Homo sapiens: one gene and its partner. The protein of the gene in region 1 interacts with the protein of each later gene in a pairwise test. Each region holds a gene or a part of one and is shown in the gene's direction. Other genes may lie near its edges. The genes, in order: RNF220 and PELI2.

What was found.
Region 2: the proteins of RNF220 (region 1) and PELI2 interact in a two-hybrid assay, tested with the Homo sapiens proteins (one study listed by BioGRID).

The regions. Positions count from the first base shown.
Region 1 is NC_000001.11:44,408,242-44,415,395, forward strand, and holds part of RNF220 (E3 ubiquitin-protein ligase RNF220), read left to right. Parts: exon of another isoform or gene 1-3,547; intron 3,548-3,739; 5' UTR 3,740-3,856; coding exon 3,857-4,481; intron 4,482-7,154. UniProt on the Homo sapiens protein: E3 ubiquitin-protein ligase that promotes the ubiquitination and proteasomal degradation of SIN3B. Independently of its E3 ligase activity, acts as a CTNNB1 stabilizer through USP7-mediated deubiquitination of CTNNB1 promoting Wnt signaling.
Region 2 is NC_000014.9:56,296,334-56,302,101, forward strand, and holds the end of PELI2 (E3 ubiquitin-protein ligase pellino homolog 2), read left to right. Parts: intron 1-266; coding exon 267-833; 3' UTR 834-5,191; downstream 5,192-5,768. UniProt on the Homo sapiens protein: E3 ubiquitin ligase catalyzing the covalent attachment of ubiquitin moieties onto substrate proteins. Involved in the TLR and IL-1 signaling pathways via interaction with the complex containing IRAK kinases and TRAF6.

The DNA.
Region 1 (7,154 bases):
CCGCGACCCCGCACTCTCGGACTGGCCCGGGCTGTCTCGGATTCGCACCCTTTGGCCAAGCTGGGCCTGAACCCGGGTCCAAATCTGGGACCATACCCGGCCATGCCTGAAACACAGGCGTCGGCCCTAGCCCGGGAACTGTGTTAGCCTTATGTTCCCTGAGCTCTCGCATATGGTGGTAAAATTTCTGTTAGAGCGGTGTTTCCAAATACCCCCTGGGCATTTGGTGTGCGGGAATTCTCTTCAAGCGAAGAAGTCTGTGAACTTAAAAAAAAAATTTTTTTCCTGCGTTCTTAACAACCCCCCACTACTCTGCCTCATTTCCCATTGTTCTTTGCTTTTTAAGTTCCTTGTTAATTTTTTTAAAAGTTTATTTATGCAAAGGAAAAATATCGTTTAATTTGTTCTATTATTTTAATTCCTGGCTTTTGGAAACGGTTCAGAGACCACAAAACTGTCACCTGTTGTAATAAGCAGAGGAGTGTTGTGTGTGCATTTTAATTGCCAGCAGAGCCGTAGTTTGGTGGGCGCCCTGAGCTCGGCTCCGGGAAAGAGCCCTTTGCAGCTTTCTTTGTGGCAGTCATTTGCAAAGGGGTTTGGCTCTCAGCTACGGCGGAGGCAGAGGGGGCAGCAGCACCGCTTCCTTCTATGCCGATCCCGGGCGCAGGTCAGGAAGCCCAGACCTTGGACTGGGATGGGAGATTACCTACTCTCTGAGACTTTCTCTTGGGCTTTCGGTTTTTCTGTGCGAAAGTGGCTAGTTCGCTCCGCAGAGCGCGGAGCGCTGCGCATCAGCCCAGCCTCAGACATTTTCACGTTCCAAACGCGGACGTCTTCGTTTCATTTGTCTTGGTTCTGGCGTGTTTAACCACGCAATTAGTAATCTCACTAATTATTCAGATAGCTGGCGTTTTGCAATCACTTTAAACCAGGGTCAGGAGTGTGATTTAAGAAACAAACAAACTCCCACAGATACGGAACTGAACCAAACCCATCACGTCAAGGATTTGAAATTTTTTAACTCAATATTTGTTGGTCCCTCCGTCCAACCTCACTGCCTGCCAGACAATTTATTTAGCTTCGTGGATTGATCCCTCCTCCTTGTTTAGTTAATTCAACAAAGACTTTTTGCAATCTGTTTGGAGTTTGTCTGATGCCGTGGAAAAGTAGCTGATGATTTATTTGGTTGCTTTTCGATTTCTGTCTTCAGCCCTTCTTTCTCCTCCTTTCAGCGGGGATGTCAGCTGTTATTACTTCCTATTGATCCCTTTGCAAAGTGAGAAGTGAACTAAAATTAATGTCAATTCCACTGCTCGGATCAATAGCTGGAGTTATTTTAATCTGGATTTGCACGAAGTGCTAAATTAAAAAAAATCAGCATAGAGGCAGAAAAGTAACAGTTACTTACTTTCCCTTTGCCGGGTTCTTCACAGTCACCCAAATGCTCCATCAAGCTGATTATCTTACAATCCATATTTTTTTAATTAAGAGGGTCAGTTAGTTTTCTTATTTTGGGTTCTGTGTTTAAACCCATGACATTTTGACATTGGGAGTGTATTAACTATAGATTTTCATAATGACTGTGGTCAGCTGAAGCCTCATCTATACAAGTTGTTAATGTGAGGAGAGGGTAAGAAAGAAAAGGGAAAAGAAAAAAAAGAAAAAAAGCACTCCCCCCTCCCCCATGGAGACCAACGCCCACGCAATGAAGTAAAAGAGATGTGGCCTGGAAAAATATTGTTGATTTATTTTCAGTGTAATGAAGTTTTCAAATGAATAACCAGGGTTGAGTGATTCACCAGGTTCTGTTGGAGTGTCCGGTGCTGTCACCAGATTCCTAATTTATGAAACTCATTTAAGATAATGAGGTGATCTAGGAAGTAAAAATAGCAAGTGAATCCTGGGGGGGGTCGTATTTTGAGGGGGAAACATTCCTCCCTTCACATTTCTTTTCTCCAGTTTTCCTCATATAATATTGCTTGTTGATAGATAAGTAGCTATTTCTGTTGTGAAGAGCTGCTTAGAACCCTTGGAACAGCCCTAGACCCACTTTCAGAGCGTCCATGTTGTATGACCATTAATCTGACTAGAAAACAGCCAAGAACAGGATTCCCAGACTTGTCAGCCTAACTGGCTGTCCTTGGCAGATCATTCCCTGCACTGCTATAACTTGACAGGAAAGTTATTTAAAATTTGGAAGAGAGAAAAATCCGTTAATGTGAGATACATAATCTGGTAATTTAGCAATGATGTCTATAAGGAAAGATGCCAAATGAGGAAGCAGTCTGATGGTGTCCACTCATCTTCCCAATTAATAACAGTCATTGACATGTCTGCTACAGGATGGGAGAAGGAAATACTCTCTTTGCACTGCATTAAGCCAGGAGGATTCATCTACCGTTTAACTGATGTTTCTCTGTTTGAGGGAATACCAAAGATACTCCAGGTGGGCTTTTTAAAAGGGACGAGGTAGATTTTATTTCTGATATGACTCTCAATTTAAAGGTATAATTTGTAGCAGACGGTGATTTTTGGTTATGCTTTGAGTTTCACTAAGTTTCTATTTCGTGTATATTTTTGACACTAATAAGTCTTGGTATTCATCTTATATTGTCCCGGCTTTTGATATATAGCCCTTCTCCCAGCCCCCACTCAAAATACACTTTGGAATGGAACCACTGACTATGAAAATGTACAACCTAAATTTACAAGGGAAACTGAAAGAAGTCTCTCCGAACTCCAATTTGTTCCGGGGGCCTTTATTGGACATCAGCTCTGACTGGGCCAATAAGCAGAGCAAAATAAGTCAGAAATTTTGTTAACATTTTGTTCTAAATGTTAATGGCAAATCCAAGGCAGTTTACAAATCTACTTAAGAGTGAGTGCATTAGTAACTAAAATCACCGATCTGTTCTTTGCTGCCCTTAGAAGACAGATGCTTCTAGAGAGCGTATGCCAAAGGCACCCATTATGGTTTTAAGTGTTGTCAGAGACGCCAGGCATTTTATTGATGAAGGTTTTGTTCCTTCTCAGAAAAGAGAAATAGAAAGCCCATGTGATTAGAGAGAGGTGTGCCTCAAAATAAATGTTAATGCTGTTTGTTCATATAGCACTTTTTTCTGGAAACAGTCTTAGATGATACATGAAGATGTGTGTGTGTGTGTATATGCCAATGTGTATCTTTTATCCATGTGTATACTTTGTACTAACTAATATGTACAAGTGTTCCTGGTCTAGATGAACTTGAATTAGGGATATTTCAGTATCAGGGTGTTGTTAGGGGAGATGAAGAGAGGATGCATATGTGGGGAATCGTATAGGTAGAATGTGGTCTCTGAACATCAGGCCTGCCATGAGTGGTGGATGCAGGTGGAAGCACTTTAAAACATAGACCCCCACTTAATCTACTGGATGGCTTGGCCTTCCAAAGCTCATTTGTTCAGAGAATATCGTATTTGGAGGTTTTATGATATTTTTTTCTTTGCTGGGCTCAGGCGCATTTCACCCAGAACGTGTAGGGACCAAAGTCAGCTACGCGTACATCACAGTAAGTTGTCTATTGATTTTCCTGAATGAAAATGGTCTGATGCTGCTGCCCACTGGCTCCTAAAGCCTGTGGTGTCTCTTGCCCGAGCATCTGTGAGCCAGAAGGATGGTGTTTCGATCACTTGGGGTTTCCCTTTTTTTCCTCCCCCTGACTTTCCTCCCCCTTCTTTTTTTCTCTTTGCTGTTTCTACAGGTCTTAGGAGGGAATGATTCCCCAGTAATATTCCCTGCCCTGACCCAAAGTGCTGGTTGGCCTCCCTCCCAGGGAAGACTGCTTCTTGCGTAACGCCGGCCACAGAAAGAGACTCCGATGGACTTACACCGGGCAGCCTTCAAGATGGAGAACTCATCCTACCTTCCCAACCCTCTGGCATCCCCAGCACTGATGGTCCTGGCATCCACGGCTGAGGCCAGCCGTGATGCTTCCATCCCTTGTCAGCAGCCACGACCCTTTGGTGTACCTGTCTCAGTTGACAAGGACGTGCATATTCCTTTCACCAACGGTTCCTATACCTTTGCCTCTATGTACCATCGGCAAGGTGGGGTGCCAGGCACTTTTGCCAATCGTGATTTCCCCCCTTCTCTACTACACCTCCACCCTCAATTTGCTCCCCCAAATCTAGATTGCACCCCAATCAGTATGCTGAATCATAGTGGTGTGGGGGCTTTCCGGCCCTTTGCCTCCACCGAGGACCGGGAGAGCTATCAGTCAGCCTTTACGCCGGCCAAGCGACTTAAGAACTGCCATGACACAGAGTCTCCCCACTTGCGCTTCTCAGATGCAGATGGCAAGGAATATGACTTTGGGACACAGCTGCCATCTAGCTCCCCCGGTTCACTAAAGGTTGATGACACTGGGAAGAAGATTTTTGCTGTCTCTGGCCTCATTTCTGATCGGGAAGCCTCATCTAGCCCAGAGGATCGGAATGACAGATGTAAGTACTTTGGTTCCAGCCCTCCCTTACCCCCAGTAAGCCCTGCCTCACCGTGATGTTCAACAGGTCGGTGGCGTTTTGCATGCTCCTAGTAATAGGAAGGGCCAACTACTTCCCTTTCACTAGCTGTGGAGTGCTAACCTTTGCTTGTCTCTTATCAGTGAGCACTGATAGTTCTTGAAATATTTTTCTGAAAGTAGCCAGAGGCAAGTTGGCCCCAGCACAGCCTTTCTCTCCGGACCCTAGTGGGCTTATTCTCTGAGGACTTGAGTGAAGAGGGGTGCCACCGACGTACTGAAGTGAATGTCATTTCATTAAGAAGTGTCGGCTCCTAGGGAATTTGGGGGGCCTAAAGAAACATGTCCACCCCTCCTCTCTTTGCTGTCCTCGTTATGTTTGTCTGATCTCAGTGTTATTTTTTAGCTTTTCCATTGTATCACATCCAGCAGACTCCACGTGATTCTATTTTCACAACTCTCAGCCCTTGTCCACATCAGGCTATTTTTCAGAGAAGGACAAAGGTGTCGTCAATCACCATAAAGCATTTCACACAGCTGTGTTTTCCTTGCGATCGCAAGGCTAGAAAGCCGACTTCTCTTGGGATTTCACAGGTTTGCTGGATGCTTATCCTGGGGCTCACTTTTAGGACTAGACACGGTTGACCTGTGTGACTGCTCCAAATTTGATGTTCACAACTATTATTAATTTCTGCTTATGAAACAGCTTTTTTTCATGTTCTCCAAGTGCCTTGTTGGGCTCTGGCTACACTTATAGCTGGAACTAAACCTTTATTTGGAACTTGTAGACTAGGAGTGCTGAACCCTGCAATCTTTTGCTCTAATATAATCAGAAAATAATTGTGTTTTGAAGCTTTTGGGCTGTGGGTAGACAGAGCAGTTTTCTTCAAGCCTGGTGAGAATTTATGAACTGAGGGTGTTTTTTCCACGCAACCCTTTGTTCTCAGATTTGCTTCATTTTATTTTCTTAAGAAAACTACATCTGAGGTTTGCCTTCCACTTTTCTCTATTTTTTCGTGCTCCCATCCTCTCTATAACCACCAACACGAATACCATTTTTTTCCCTCCTCTTTATGATGCCGAGGAGAGTAATAGAGACATTGCAGCTCTCTCCCCTGTCGCCACTGCTTCGTCAGGCTGTCTCCTTGAATTAGGCACTGTGTTAACTTCCCTGCGCTAAAAGGCATCTGCCTAAACCCAGCGTACCTTTTCAATAAAAGTCATCATAAAATCAACCTGCCTTGTAAATCCATCGCTCTTTGGTTTTGAAATATGTTGCAAGTGTGTCTTTTATGTCAGCCTCTGTAAGCCGGAGACCTCCCCACTTAAGGGAGAAGGCTGCTGGCTGACAGCACTACTGCTAGTGTTGCCCTCTCACTTTGGCTTTGGTTCTCTTTCACCTTTTCAGTTTCTGTTGACTTGTGTGTCTTGTGATCCTGCTTCTTGGATATACCTGCTGAACAGGTATCGGCATTGTGTTGGTTCATTTGATTTTATTTTAGTTTTCATTTGTCCAGTGATGTGCAAGTGATCAAGGCTAGTTATAATGTGACCTCCAGCCAAAACTGCCTTGTGTTAGGGTGTGACAGATTCCGCCCCTTTTTTTCTCCAAATACAAGTTGAAAATGAAATCTTCTCTTAGCTAATATGCCACAAAGTAACATCTGGAGATTGAGATCTCTTTCTTCTTACCTAACAGATCCAGCTTGTCTCCATTTTTCTATCTTTTTAGCCCAAACCTGTATCCGACTCCAGAGCAGGAGGAAGCTTGTTAGTCAAGTCAGAACTCATAGACGTGGATATCCATTCCCCTCTGAGTGTCAAAGCCATAACTCTTCTGTTTGCCTGGTTTGCATTGTGTGGTGGTGGCATCCCCCATGGAGATGGATCCCTCACACAGGAGTACGCCTGGGTGGAGAAAAATTAAATGAGTCTGTCTCCCAAAGTGAAATGGAATTCTGACCTTGAAATTAATGAGATTCTGATCAGAAGGGTGGGGAAACTTCTTTATTTCCAATGCGGTGTTATACAAATTGGAGTCCCTTTCCTCTTTTATTCATTTAAAATAGTCTTCCCTTATAGAGTACCCTGTGTTCTCCTTTTTTTTTCTTGTACACAAGCATAAAACCTATAGGAGTGTCTGTGAGGGGAGGGTGTTCGTACACCCTCGTTATTATCCAGAGTTGCATTTGTGACTAATCTTTAATAAAAAACAAAGGTGCAAAGTGAAAAGGAGGCTGTGCTACCCTGTGGTCACCCTGGAGTTGTGCTTTTTACTCCCTTCCTTACCTTAGGTGGTTAGCACATCCCTCACTGGGTCATACTAGATAGCGTTTGTGCTTTTGATTGCGAATTTTTGGAAGGCAGGAGAAGTATTTTTCTGTAAGGAAGGGTTGAAGAGGCACTAAGACAAAGTCTGCAGCAGCTTTCTTGGCTCCTGTCATATGCCGACGTGTGTCGGAATATTTATGGTCTGTTTTATGTAAATACATATTTAAGGGTCGTTAGAAGGCCTGATTATTCCCACTAGATGCCTTTCAGGTCCTCCCTACAGAACCGTTTTGAAATAAGTAATATTTCTCAGATAATCGAGTGACAGTATACAAGACTGCTTCCAAAGGGAGAGAAAGCTTCAGGGGCAGATGGGGGCAGTGAC
Region 2 (5,768 bases), on another chromosome or scaffold:
CACTACAGTAATTGAACATGTAAAGCTAGGTATACATACTGTGCTCAGGGCTTTGTACATACGGCATATATGTATCATATCCAGTGATCAGATGAGGAAGATGAGGCTCGGGGAGGATAGGTTACTCCCCCAGTTCTGTTTTTGTGGGATAAATTGCTTCCCTGTGTTATCTTCAAATATTTTTTTGCTTGTTCTGAGAGGAAAGAATCTTGGAGTGATTTGCTTGATTTTGCTTTTAAAAGGCATGTGTCTCAAACTTGTTGTAGGTGGAAAGTGAGACCAACGTCCTGCAGGACGGCTCCCTCATTGACCTGTGTGGGGCCACTCTCCTCTGGAGAACAGCAGATGGGCTTTTTCATACTCCAACTCAGAAGCACATAGAAGCCCTCCGGCAGGAGATTAACGCCGCCCGGCCTCAGTGTCCTGTGGGGCTCAACACCCTGGCCTTCCCCAGCATCAACAGGAAAGAGGTGGTGGAGGAGAAGCAGCCCTGGGCATATCTCAGTTGTGGCCACGTGCACGGGTACCACAACTGGGGCCATCGGAGTGACACGGAGGCCAACGAGAGGGAGTGTCCCATGTGCAGGACTGTGGGCCCCTATGTGCCTCTCTGGCTTGGCTGTGAGGCAGGATTTTATGTAGACGCAGGACCGCCAACTCATGCTTTCACTCCCTGTGGACACGTGTGCTCGGAGAAGTCTGCAAAATACTGGTCTCAGATCCCGTTGCCTCATGGAACTCATGCATTTCACGCTGCTTGCCCTTTCTGTGCTACACAGCTGGTTGGGGAGCAAAACTGCATCAAATTAATTTTCCAAGGTCCAATTGACTGACGCCCTTGACAGCCATCTACGACTTTATTAACAGGTTACTGTGAAGATTTTGCCACTAACTCTAGATTTTACCTTTTTGTAATGCTGTTTATCAGAGGAGGGTGACAGGGGCTGGAAATAAAGAGAGGGGACATGGTGATGAAACATGGCAGGAGTGTAACAGATACCAGTGGTGTGTTGCATGCTCAAAACAGCAGCGTCGTCATTGAAGTCTGCTTGATTAAACCATAATATCTTTGTAATAATTGGATTTAAAATGCTATGCTTCTATTTTTAACCTTGGGTTTTTAACCAAGTTTTTTTTTTTTTGTAATCTTGGACAAGACTTTAAATCATATTTTACAGATGTAGAAGAAATTTATTCAAAAGTGTGGGCTCATGAAGTTCACTTCAGTGCAGTGTGGTGTAGGTGTTACGCGAAGGGCGCACAGTGTCTAGAAATACTTGATCGTGGCTCAAACCTGACCAGACAGCAGAGGGGCGGCTCTGTACAGTGTGACTGGTGGACAGATGGCCTTAGGCACAGGTGGTTTTGAAATCTGGGGCTTTTTCTGATTTATTTTTCTGACTTGTTGGGGGAGAGAATATTCATAACTTGTGGGCTTTTTTTTTTTTTAACTTCAGTGGAATTTACTTTAGATATTCATTCATCAAATACATGGGACTTCACAAACAATTTTCCATAACTTTTTAGCCTGTCTTTTGTTATTTCTGCCTAATATGATTTGCCCCGATACTCATCTTGCACGGCCAGAACTGTTTGGTTGATTAAAATACATCAGCTCTTAAAAACTCATTAACTGAGGGTAATTACAGTAGTAGACATGGTCTGGGTACTATACTACCATGTTTATTTGCTGACTGAATTAAGATTTAAGAATGATTAAAAATAAGCTTTTACTTTTTAAAACCACTTGAGGTTTCATAAAGCTTGGGGTTTTTTTTTTTCCTTTGTTAAGAAAGCCAACCAATCACAATGATATAGTCATTGTTGTGCACTCCCTTTTCACCATCTGTCACCTTCCCTTGCAGCTTAAGGAGCCCAGTAAGTTTTGAAAATGTTTGCGAATCAAACTAAATTTAAGTGGGATGATTAGATATACACAACACCAAGTGGTACATCTGCAGAGATAATTCAAAATTCCTGCTTTTGAGAGAGCAAATGAGTGTTGCTGAGGAATAATTAAATGAGAATTTCATAGGAGCTCCACCATTCCTGTTACTTTCATTTCATTTTGATTAATAATTCTTGGATGCTTGGCATCGATCGTATCACTGCTCCTAGAAGGTAAAGATCCTTTAGGACATGAGACTGGTAGAAGCTGGCTGAGATAAAATAAGTATTTATTTAAACTAATGTTCTCTTAATTTGACCATTGCAGATTTGGGTGACTTTTTTTTAACCTTTGTACATATACGTAATTTATATGATTCTAATGTACTATATCCATACTTGAATTGGTTTTTTCGTATTTTGCCTACTGGCAAATATTTTGCCTATTTTCAGTCGTTCTAACCTATTTGAATACGCTTTTCCTTAAAGTGATACGATAATATTACTCTTGATTGCTGCTGCTTAATTTGATGTAATATGTTTAAAGTTCAGCCTCTCAGTTTTAATATAGCTTTATTTTTCAGTGGAGATCATTGTTTAGGATGAGACATTTTTGGTTTTGGTTTTGTTTGGGTAAATTTTAAATGGTGTGAAAATCGATGACAACAGTCCTCTTACAGATAGCTTGCTGTATTCTGTATAGCTTACTCTACCTGCAGACAGAAAATGAAAGAAAAAAATGGACTTGCCTAGAATAATATATTGAATGCCTTTTGATTTAGCCAGAGTCTCTGATGATTAGCTTTCACTGATAGAGTATGTCTTTTCAGCCTGTAATTCTTTGGGCCCCAAAGAATGACAAAGGAGGCACTCGTTCTCTTTTCTTGCTGTATGCCTAGAAAGTGGTTGAAGGATTCTTGATGCCCTAAAACCATCTTGTAAGCTAAATGGTCTTGCATCCAGAAAGGCCAGATTTTACCTACCAAGAAAAAAAGATATTTTTCCAGAGAGTTAGGTATATCATAATTTTCCATTTCAAGTCCTGTTTATAAGTCTAGTCATTCTGCAACGTGACATATCCCCCAAAATGAAGTTACCTTCCAAGTTGGACACGTCCCGTAGTTGGGCATATGTCTAACTAAAAGTTTCTGACTTTTAGTAAATTCAGCTTAAATATAAGTTGAAATTTGGGAAATAATTTCCAAGCTCTTGGAAGGGGTAACAGTGAACCGCCCTCCATGGGCTCCACATCTTTTCCTTTGGCTTCCAAAGTCAGGTCCCGCCCACCCTGCCTAAGGAACTGCAGAGAGGTGGCAAATCAGCAAAAAGGACACCAGGCTCTTCTTGGCCACTTGTAGGAAGATCCCTTTACAATTTTGACTAAGGAGATTTTTTTTTTCACAGTTGAGTTAGTTTGTGAAAATAAAGAACTCTGTAGCTCACCAAGGTGGAGAAACGCAATTCAGAAAAGTAATTTCTCCAAGGTCACTTCTTTTTTTATGTCTTGCCATCACTTTAAAGGACTAGCCCCACTCCCCCATGTGTATACACAAGGAAATTGCAGACCAATTAGTTGTCTTGGCCTGACTCTAATGCCTTTTGCAAGTAGCTTTCCAGAAGTAAAAGTCCCAGTGATGTATTCCCATAGAAATATTTTTCAGTTGTTTATGTCGTTTACTACAAAAAAAAAGATTCAGAGTGGATGGAGTACAACTCTGAGTATTTTTCTAGTCCGGAATTTTTTATTAATAATCGGTGCTGCCGGGTCATGCATGCTGCAACTCTCAACATTTCCCTTATTTGGTTCAGCTTTTAGCAAAAAGGGCTACAGTTCACCCTGCAGAGTATTAAGGTTTCTGGATTTTTTTCTCCCAACTGTGGCCCAAAAGAATTAAAATCTGTTAATATAAATAGAGAACATATTTATCATTCCTCGATAGTTAATTATAGACTTTGGTACCTTTGTGCCTCAGGGAAGCCACGTGATATAACTGGTTATAGAATTTCAGGGTTAGGGTTTAAAGAAAGGAGAAAGCCATTGGAAAAATGATGGGCTCCATTAAGGAGACTAATGAATCTGGATGCAGAAATATGTCAGAAACTGGCATAAACATGATTGTAGTAGAATTTATTTTCCAGTACCAATAGGGAAATTATTTTAAGTTATTACATTTACTGTATTGGGAAACTTGAGGAGAACTCTTTAGTTCATAAAGCTTCAATGTCTTTTTTTTTTTTTTCATGGAAAAACTCAAACCTCTGTTATTTGGGAGCTCAGTATTGTGTGGACACTTACGAGAGTTTTCTGCTTAATTGAAGTGTAATATAGGTTGTAGAATTGTTACCTGCAGTTCTATGGTTTTGTTTCACTTCTTTTCTTTTTTAAAGCCATTCTGTTCTTTGGATGTGCTTGAAAGGGTGTGTGATTACACCATTGTTAATGCTGGGTAAAAACTATCTTCTTGCAGCCTTGCCTCATAACAGTGGAATTTCTGATAGACAAACCACAGGACTTTGATTTTAAGCCAAATCCATCTCCATCCCTTTACTGTCAATCTTCTGTCCCAGTAGTTTAGCCTTTGTGGCTTAGGTTATGATGCGCCTCCTTCTGTGCGACCAATGAGACGACTTCAGCATCTTTTTAAAATAATCTAAGCATCATTGAAGCAGTAACACAAAAAAAAGGTTCAGTATTTTCTTTTTAGTATAACTTACATCCTTTCAAATAAGTCTTTGCCCTCATGAAGAATCCCTAGAGGAAGATAAGGAAAATAAGTATTTTCCAGTTTTGCTTGACAGTTTCTAAACAAACAAAAATAAACTCAATGAAAGGAAAGATGTTTCTTTTTAGCTGAGATGACAGATTGCTTCTCTGTATTAAATAGTCTAGAAGTTAAGGGGATGGTCACATTTACCATGTATTGTGTTATTAGCAGTTAAATTTTATGAATATGTTTGTAAAATTGTTGTTTTATATTTCATGTCAAATTGAAAAGTTTATTTCTTCACTATTGTACCTGTGGAAATACAAGCCATTTTACAGGAAAAAATCTTCAAAAACTATTAAATGGATATCAGCCTGTTTGTGAGCCATTGTCTTCAGATTCTGTGGTTGTCACTGAGTTCATTAGGACATTTAGTAGGTTGATACGAGTAGAACTGATTTTTTTCACTTCTCTAACTTCCAAGTTAATCTCCAGCTGTTGAGTTTATTAATTGTTTTATATTCTGCACAATACATATTTAAACCTTGATTCTGAAAATCCCCTACATTTTTTAATTAAAGAAATTTCCTTGGTGCCTATATTACTATTTCTCGTGACATTACATCACTGTCAAATAAAGTTAACTTCCAGGGGAATTTAACCTGACTTGTAGAATTAATGGATTTTTGTCATGATCATTTCAGCCATATTGCTGCTCTTGTGACAGTCTTCATTCACTTTTAACAACATAATAAGGATTGTGTATAAGCCTTCAAGCCTTCCTTGAAGCCTTAAACTAATATATCTATCATAAGAAAATGTATATATTTATGACAAATTTTGTTCTCATCACATTGATATTCAAAGAGTTTTAGTATTATTGAGAGAAACAGATTTTTCATTTCCAGAAAAAAAATGCACATTTATATAGGCTTTTATTTCAGGGGATAAGTGTTCCATACTTTGTCAAATCTAAGATGCCACGAATTGTGAGATGTGTTATAGAAAATCACAACTGGTTATAATTGTAAGTTACATTCCATTGGGCAAGGAATACACCTCACACAGCATACAAACATTAAATCAAAATGGGTCAAAGAGCTACAACTATAGAACTCTTAGAAGAAAACATAATGTAAACCTTTGAAAACATAATGTAAACCTTTGTAACCTTAG